Homo sapiens: one gene and its partner. The protein of the gene in region 2 purifies or fractionates together with the protein of the main gene of each other region. This does not show direct contact. Each region holds a gene or a part of one and is shown on either strand. Other genes may lie near its edges.

Region 1 (3,500 bases), on a different chromosome or scaffold from region 2:
GCACTTTCCTATTCCTGCTGGATGACGGGCCTTACAGAAAAATCCTGTTGCCTTTCATCTTTGCATCCCTAGTGTTCAACTGGTCAGAACACCTGCCACAGGAAGAAAATGAACCCTTTTCTTACCGTAATCTCAGTGGCCCTCCTTTATGCCAGGCCCTTTAGCAATACTTAACAGAAAATAAAAAATGGAAAAACATCCACTAAAGTTTAAAAGATACATTTTCAATATTGCAATTGTTTCATTTTGGGTTAACATGATGTTTTTATTTTAAAGCAAAATAAAGGTAAGAAATTCTATGGCTATCTAAAAGGGGGCATTTATTTTATTTTATTTCATTTTTTTTCAGACAGAGCCTCACTCTGTCGCCCAGGCTGGAGTGCAGTGGTGTGATCTCAGATCACTGCAACCTCTGCCTCCCGGGTTTAAGCAATTCTCCCGCCTCAGCCTCCCAAGTAGCTGGGATTACGAGCACGCACCACCACGCCTGGCTAATTTTTGTATTTTTAGTACAGACAGGTTTTCACCATGTTGGCCAGGCTGGTCTCGAACTCCTAACCTCAGGTGATCCACCCGCCTCGGCCTCCCAGAGTGCTGGGATTACAGGCGTGAATCAAAGTGCCTGGCCGAAAGAGGGCACGTTTTTAAAGACTGAGAAACAGTATAATTTAAAGGTCATGTGGCTAAATTACTCTATCTGAAAATACTTTATGCGCTAAATGTAGCTATGAAAAGTCAGTTAAAAACTTGTAAATATAACTTTTATACTCTATAAGAAACTTTCTAATGTATGCTTTTTGAGTAAAGATTTTCCTATTTGTTTACAGAAATGTGCAAGTATACAATCAGCAAACAATTTCTCTGGAACACAGGTGGGAGATGTCTTTGAGCATTCTTATCTCTTTACTTGAATTACTTTCACTAAACATCTACAGTTTACCAGTCCCTGGGCTGGGCAGAGGTGACAAGCATAAAAAGAGAATCTCACTCACAAGGAGCTTACATTAATTATGTGCTAAGTAACACAAAGGTACACTTAGTTGCTACAGAAACAGAGAAGCATAATCTCAGAAGTTAATGCAAAGCAGTCTGGAGGACTCCTAAAATATCTTTTTAAGGATGGTTTAAGGAGCTAAGTAAATATTTTAAAAATTTTTTTAAAGGAGGTGGACATTCAATTTCAGTCAAAGAATCTACCAACAGCAATGGCTACAACGTTTGCAACACCAAGGTAGGAGAGGGAGGCGTGGTCCTGATTAAAAGGTGGGGCAGGGCAAGAAGGAAGACACAGAAGTGGAAGCACACACAGGGCGAGGCCTAGGGCAGTCCTGATGAGTTTCTGAAAAGAGGCCAGCCATCAGGCTATGCCACACTCTGGCTACAGTGCGACTAAAATGATTTGTGTAAATAAAAGAGCATTTTATTGGGCAAATTTATGCACATCAGACTTCATAAAGAACACTTTCAGCAAAGATCAAGTCTCATCTCTATGATTATCATACTCCCCCTAAAAAACTAAGCAGTACGCTTTCAAATTTGTGTTAAACATGGCCGGGCGCAGTGGCTCACGCCTGTAATCCCAGCACTCTGGGAGGCCAAGGCAGATGGGTCACTTGAGGTCAGAAGTTCAAGACCAGCCTGGCCAACACAGTGAAACCCAATTTGTACTAAAGTACAAAAATTAGCCGGGCGTGGTGGCACGCACCTGTATGTAGTCCCAGCTACTCAGGAGGCTGAGGCAGGGGAATCGCTTAAACCCTGGAGGCAGAGGTTGCAGTGAGCCGTGATCGTGCCAGTGCGCTCCAGCCTGGGCAACAGAACGAGACTCGGTCTCAAAAAAAAAAAAAAAAATTGTGTTAAACATGAAATACTTTCAATATTGCAATGTACTCCATGGTCTAGGTCTCCTAACCAGGGCAATGGGGTTGATGGGAAAGAAGATGTAAAACCAGTAGCATCACTGAACTGCAAATCCTTTATGGTTGAAATAGGAGCCATGACAGCTTCACCAGAAAAACTATGAGAAGACAGAGTTTATAAAGGCATTGAAGGGACAAAAGGTATTAAGGTATGGGGTGGCGGGGGGGCAGTGAGAAAGAGAAGGGAAGGAAACACAGCTGAGTTAATAATTTTCCTTGTTCCTAAGGAAGGCATTTACACACAGGAAAAACAAAGCATTAGAACGTTAGGGGAAAAAACTTTCAAGTTGGAATTTATCTCCCTTCTTTTGAGAACCTAGCAGTTTTCTACCTTACAATTCCATGTTCTAAAAAAGGAATTCATTTTCCAATCAAAATAACTCTAGAAGTAGAGTAGTTACAAAGATATCAACCAGCATAAGAGCAAAAAGTTTAAACTGAACTAAACTCAGACCTGATGAGGTTAACTCTCTGAGTGCCTCATTTACTTCGTACTCTAAAATAAGCTTTTACAGAAAAAGGAGAACTCTTCACATCAATAAAGTTCTACAAAAGAGCATAAGCAAGGAAACCCTTACAGCAGTGTCTGTTTTTAACAAGGTATTTTCCAAAAACATGACTTCAGTGTTCATGTCTTCTCCCCATTGGAAAAAGGTTGTTTTGAGAATTTTGTAGAAGAAATTACAAGAATATACTCCAAGATTTTTGTGCAATTTATCAATCTGAAAAGAATATCCCTAAATCTGACAGAATCTATAAGAGTACTGTATGCATGATAAAAGCATATTTAAAACTTGTACCTTTGGCCAGGTACGCCGTGGCTCACGCCTGCAATCCCAGCACTTTGGGAGGCCGAGGCGGGCGAATCACCTGCGGTCAGGAGTTCAAGACCAGCCTGGCCAACATGGTGAAATCCCAACTCTACTAAAAATACAAAAAAAAAAAAAATTAGCCAGGTGTGGTGGAGGGCACCTGTAATCCCAGCTACTCGGGAGGCTGAGGCAGGAGAATCACCTGAACCCGAGAGGCGGAGGATGCAGTGAGCCAAGAACGCACCATTGCACTCCAGCTTGGGCGACAAGAGTGAAAGTCCGCCTCAGGAAAGAAAAAAAAAAAAAAACTTGTACCTTTAACACTAGGATAAAAACAAATGAAATCGATTGATGGTAACACATCTATACAGCTTTTTTACAACTTTGAGAGGCCCTAACATAGACAACACGTTACTAAGATTAGAAGACCTAGATTATAATCCTAGCTATCACTATTTTGACGGAAAATATGAATTTTAACATGACAATGAAATAACAGTGAAAGGAGTTTGTCAGCCACTCCTTGGCTGGTAACATCTACCATAGCCTATCACTACAAAAACTTGCAAATCTATGTAGAGTAGCTGCAGCTACCTGAAGGCACTGTTCATTGTAAACACCATTAACAATTTGATGTCCCAATTTGCATGTTTTGGGGGTGGGGGGAGACAAGGTCTCACTGTTGTCCAGGATGGAGTGCAGTGGCAGGATCATGGCTCACTGCAGCCTCAACCTCCCAAGCTCAAGCGATCTTCCCACTTCAGCTTCT
Region 2 (5,611 bases):
ACACACTCCTCAGGGAAAGGTGAGGGGTTGAGAAGACAGGCCCTGGGTAAAAATTCTTAGGACAGCACCTGGAGTTGAGAGGCCTGCCTAGGAGAGAACACAGGCACTGCCACACCACCACAGGGGACAGCTGCTGTCTGAGGTCAGCAGACCAGTTCACACGCCACGCAAGGTTGCTATAGATCCAAGTCATAAAAATCTTCCAGCTCATCATGAAACAAGTCCCACTCATCTTCAGAGTCTGTTAGTTCGTCGTCCCCACCTGCAGCCAAAAGCATAAGCAACATCTCGCCCAGCTCAAAGGTGACAACCTCTTCTTCATCGTTGTCAAAGGGGTTGCTGTTCTCTCTTTCCTCAATGAGTTCCCAGAAGTGGTTCCTTCGTTGGGCCTGTAAAAAACAAGGCCATGATAGGGATGGCACTGTCGAGCAGTATCTTCTATCCTGTTGTTTATAAGGCAAAACGTCCAGCACACCAGAGGGCATGACGAACCAGACTTCTTAGTTAGGGTTTCCATTTACCACTTCCTCCCCTCTGGTTACTTCATGGAAATCGTTTAGGCTAGAGCTTTAACACACATTTTTTCTTCCTTTCCTATCCCTCCCAGTTTTCTGAGGTTTGTTTCCTCCTTTAATACTCTACACTTTCGCTCCCAGACCTGAGCGTTAACCTTCTCCTTCCCCTACCCCAATATGTGCAGGACTCAACTGATACCTTGGAATTTCCCCTCCTTTAAAAAAACAGTGAGAGTTACCCGGTATCTGCTTGATGTTCCCACTTTCTGTCTCTGTGGCTCCTCTCTACGGCCATCAGGGTACGCATGCTTGTAAAAACAGTTCCCTCCAAATGGGCAGCTCCCACGTCCTTCATCAAAATACCTGCACGCCTTGTTGCTGGAAAGGAAAATATCGCAACCCTTATTCACAGTGGATTTCAGGTCTGTATTTGACTATCATCCGGGGTTTCTTTAAACAGGTAGGGATAGAACCAGTATGTCAGCTTACAGCCCTCCCCAAGATGTGTTCTTATAAACATGTGTGTGCCAATGCAAGAAACACTAACTAGAAACCGGTAACTCTGTTCAAGTCTATGCTGGTTAATAGCTCTAGTACAAGCAGATGCCATAGAGAGAAAATCTTCTAGAAAGCCAACACATGAGAACATAGGACAGCTATGACACGGATTCAGAATAAGGTAGAACCCCACTCATGGGGCCTTACTTGTCAACAGTAGAGACCTCTTTATAACACAGTCCCTTGGCATGGACCCCAAGGACTGTGTTATAGCAAGATATATACTGGATGTTATCAGGGTGACAAAATAAACTGTCCTGGGAAGTCAAAGAAGGGTAGGAAGGAGGTAGGAGTGTATAATGCAGCACCATTCTTTTCAAAGTGAACCCAAGCTCTGTTGGGCTCTTCGCTTGAGAAAAGGCTGCAGTGCTCATACCTCATTGCCTCCTTGTATTTCAGAATGAGTTTCTGCTTCTCTTCTTTCTCCTCCACCCAGTACTCACTTGGAATGACAAAGTTAGATGTGATCCGGCATTCTGGGCAGGACCTGGGAAACAATGAACAGGCTGCAATGCAAATTCCCCTTTTACAGGCCCACTCTTCAAGGACACACCCTGGTGTGTCGCCTCCAGACTTAAAGACTTAACTGAAAGGCACGTGGGCATTTCCTGAAAGGGTTCCACATACTGTCACACAACTGACCATTTCTTTCAAGCAAGGCAACCTCCTTTATAAATCCAACTCAAGGGCTAGCCAGTTCTTTTTTTTTTTTTTTGAAAAATATAACTTAGGTAAAAAACAAAAACAAAAGAAGACATTTCACACAGACTCCTTTTTCTTTCGTTTAAATAAATTTATTTCTTGTAGCTTTGCTCTGTTTAGATTATGTGGTTTTTGTTCAGTTATGAGAACAATCTTTAAAGGATGGTGGATTGTTGGCTAGCTTAATGAATGGAATAGGAAAGTGGAAATGTAAAACGTCAGGAAACATACATTCAGAGCTAGATCAGTTTGTTCACTGAGCCTAAACTGGCTAATAATCCATTAAACACAATCTCCTCAGAAAAAGCACGAAGATTCTAACTGATACACAGGGTTTCCTCATTCAAATAAAAGTAGATAGACCAACTAACCTAGAAGCTAGCTGAAATACAAAGAAGAAATCCCCATTAGAATATCCCAGTTTCAAGATAAAATGCATGCATTTAAATGCGGTCCATCTGGTTGAAAGTTGGCACAAGTTACTAAATTCTTCCCCAAAAGAGAAAGCACAAATGAAGACTGGGGAGGAGTCTCACTTTATGATCTTGCTCTCAAATTGCTTAGCACTCCTCCACTTGCGAATGCACTTGAGACAGTAGGTGTGGTTGCAGTTGGAGAGGATCCCGAAGCGGCGCTCACTGGGGTTGGCTTTCTCATAGACCACCTCCATGCAGATCCCACACACCATGTCCTTGCTGCGCTGCACGGCAAATGAGAGCTCCATGTCCTTCTCATGGGCCTCAATGCACGACTAGAGAAGGTGGAGAGAGAACAAGTGGAATCCAGTCATTGAACCCTGAAAAACTTGAGCAACAGTTAATGATTCACAGTCAAAGAATCAAATAGTCAACTGAAAAAACAATGTTCCCAAGCTGACACGAAAATTAGCTTTGCTGACAAGTAAACACAGGTGTGGTGTTTTTTTTTTGTTTGTTTGTTTTTGCGGTGGTACTTAACAATACTAGAAAATCAAACTATGAGGACTCAACTTCGGGAACTGAAAAATTACCCAATTTTCTCTACCCCAAACCTGGAGCTCAACTACATTAAAGACGGTTTTCCATACTGTTTGTTATTTCTGGTTTCTACATGAGGTTAAGACCCTAGTTAAAACCTGTCGGAAAATAAGGGTGACAGGCACGTAAACTCTCTTATGCCTTTAAAGAAAAACAACTTCATCGAGATTTTTCAACTACTCAGCTTGATAGACTGATGCACACTTAGGTTAGGTTAGATTAGCCCACTTTGGGGCTATTATAAATAATGCTGCCAAGAACATTCATGTACCAATTTTTGTGTGGACATCATATTTTAACTTATAAAAAACATGATTATAGGAAACATAAAAATGCAGAAAACTCCCAGCACTTTGGAAGGCCAAGGTTGGGTGGATCACATGAGGCCTGGAGTTCGAGACCAGCCTGGTCAACATGGCGAAACCCCATCTCTACTAAAAATACAAAACTGAGGCAGGCGTGGTGGTGCATGCCTGTAGTCCCAGCTATTCGGGAGGCAGAGGCTGCAGTGAGCCGAGACTGCACTGCTACACTCCAGCCTGGGGGACAAAGCAAGACTCTGTCTCAAAAAAAAATAAAAATAAAAAAAATAACACTGCAGAAGAGCAATGTCATCCATAATCTCACATCATCACTAAACATGTCTTTTCCTAAACCTTTAAAAGAAAAAACATATATACATATATTCAGAGGTAGGTTCTACTACCTCAATATATAGATATAACGTATAGAGATTTATCCTGCCTAAATTCACAAAAGTACGCTGAAGATAGGGATCAAATTATGTCTACCTTATAACATGCCTCACACCCTAAAACCACATTTAAAAAGATGGAAATTTAAAAGAGATGGAAATGATTAGAAGCAAACTTTGCTCCAATAAAGTTAAAGTTTCTAACACAATGTCTTCTGAACCTACCCTGGCTCCCATACACTGCTGCTGGAAATGTAAAATCCTGCAGCCACTGTGGAAAAGTATGGCAGTTCATCAAAACGTAAAGCAGAGTTCCTATGTAACCCAGCAATTCCACTCCTAGGTAACGGAAAACATATCTTCACAGAAAAACCTATATACAAATGTTCCTAGCAGCCTTATTCATAATAGCCAAAAACTGGAAATGATCTAAGTGTCCATCAACTCATGAATGGAAAAACAAATGTGGTCTAGCCATACAAAGACAATAATTCAGCCATCAAAACTAAGAACGGCTACACGCAACCACACAAAGAACCTTGAAAACACTATGTTAAGTGAAAGAAGTGAAGTCAATCACAAAGGACCACATTACAGGATTCCATTTACATGAAATGTCCACAATAGGCCAATCCAGAGACAAAGCAGATTCGTTATTGCCAGGAGCTGGAGGAAGGCTGGAATAAAGAGTGACTGCTAATGGGTGTAGGATGATCAAATTATCCTAAAATTAGTAAAATGGTAATGGTTGCACATCTCTGTAAATATACTAAAAACCAATGAAATGTGCATTTTCAAAAGATTAAACATATTCAATGTGAATCTCAGAAACATTATTTTTTAAAAGAGGAAAAAAATGTTAGAAGTCTATAGTCTGAGTTTCTGGAAGTAGGACTTCTTTTTTTCTTTTGCCTCAACCTCCTGGGCTTGAGCGATCCTCTTGCCTCAGCCTAACAAGTAGCTGGGACTATAGACACATGCCTCCATGCCCAGTTAATTTTGTTCACTGGAAATATGACTTCTTGATAAAGCATCCAAGAAGCCCAAGAAAGGAAAACTTCCCTACTCACTGATAACCATTCAATTCATCAAATGTTTCTCTGAAATAAACCCACAATGCTGTGAAAGGGCAAATAATGATTCTCACATCTAATAACACACACATCTCCCTAAAGACTTACTTTGATATGCTGCGATCTCTGGGCAGCATCCATTGGATGCAGGACCTGCAGCCCACACATGTCACAAGAATCTCCGTGGAGATACACACAGTTCTCCCCGTATCGGCACTCTCCCACTGCAGCATAGGGGCACAGCTGCTTCTTTGTCTCCACGGCGGTTTGCTCTTTCTCTGATTCTTCCTTGGTCACTGAGCCCTGCAGGGGTGCTTCAGTGCAGGAAGGCGCAGCTGAAAATGTGTAAGAGGGTGGTAAAGGTCCAAATAGATAAGGCATGAACTATAAGAGAACTGAGAATCTAACCGCAAAAAATGAAAATAAAACTGCAATGAAATACCAAAACAGTCTACTGAACTAACTTCTTCACTTGAAAGAAAGGAATTTTTTCTACCGCTGTTATTTCCAAGATTAGACTTGTAAAAAAAAAAAATTGCTTCTTTATCTATGTCTTGGGTAACTGAAATTTAATTTCAAAAAGTACTCGAAAGGATTCAGTTTTTCAAAACATTCTGAATTCATTTCACTGGGATTAAAAATTTCCTTCACTCTATCTGTAAATCTTAGGTAATCCAAATTAAAGTACTGTACTAAGATTAAACTAAAAAAGGAATAGAAGCAGAAAGGGGAAAGTTGTCAAAACTAAGCAAATGGATGAACTGCTATCCAGCCCTCTAACTCTTATTTTCTTCTTCAGAATACTTACTACGGCCACAGTAGGGTTGCCCAGGAACAAACTCAATAGCATTCACCCAGTCCTCTGAACCTGCTCCTACAGTTGCAAAGTTTGAATTTCTTGACTCAGCTTCGCCTGTATTCATTTCAACAAGTGGTCCAACTATCGATGAGAGACTTGAGGAAGCAGCAAGGGATGACTTTGTAGTTAGCTCTGTAGCAGTTGCTTCTTCCTGTTTCAATGGTTTGCTATGTTCATATCTAAGAAAAAATTCA

Evidence for each region.
Region 1: the proteins of MKRN1 (region 2) and LARP4B purify together in Homo sapiens (affinity purification with mass spectrometry, with the first as the bait; one large-scale study listed by BioGRID). This does not show direct contact.

Annotation. Positions count from the first base shown.
Region 1 is NC_000010.11:925,206-928,705, forward strand, and holds part of LARP4B (la-related protein 4B), read right to left. Parts: intron 3,460-3,500; exon of another isoform or gene 1-3,459. UniProt on the Homo sapiens protein: Stimulates mRNA translation.
Region 2 is NC_000007.14:140,454,341-140,459,951, forward strand, and holds part of MKRN1 (E3 ubiquitin-protein ligase makorin-1), read right to left. Parts: intron 5,597-5,611; coding exon 5,367-5,596; intron 4,894-5,366; coding exon 4,667-4,893; intron 2,527-4,666; coding exon 2,312-2,526; coding exon of another isoform or gene 2,308-2,311; exon of another isoform or gene 1,875-2,307; intron 1,561-1,874; coding exon 1,450-1,560; intron 894-1,449; coding exon 755-893; intron 390-754; coding exon 177-389; 3' UTR 1-176. UniProt on the Homo sapiens protein: E3 ubiquitin ligase catalyzing the covalent attachment of ubiquitin moieties onto substrate proteins. These substrates include FILIP1, p53/TP53, CDKN1A and TERT.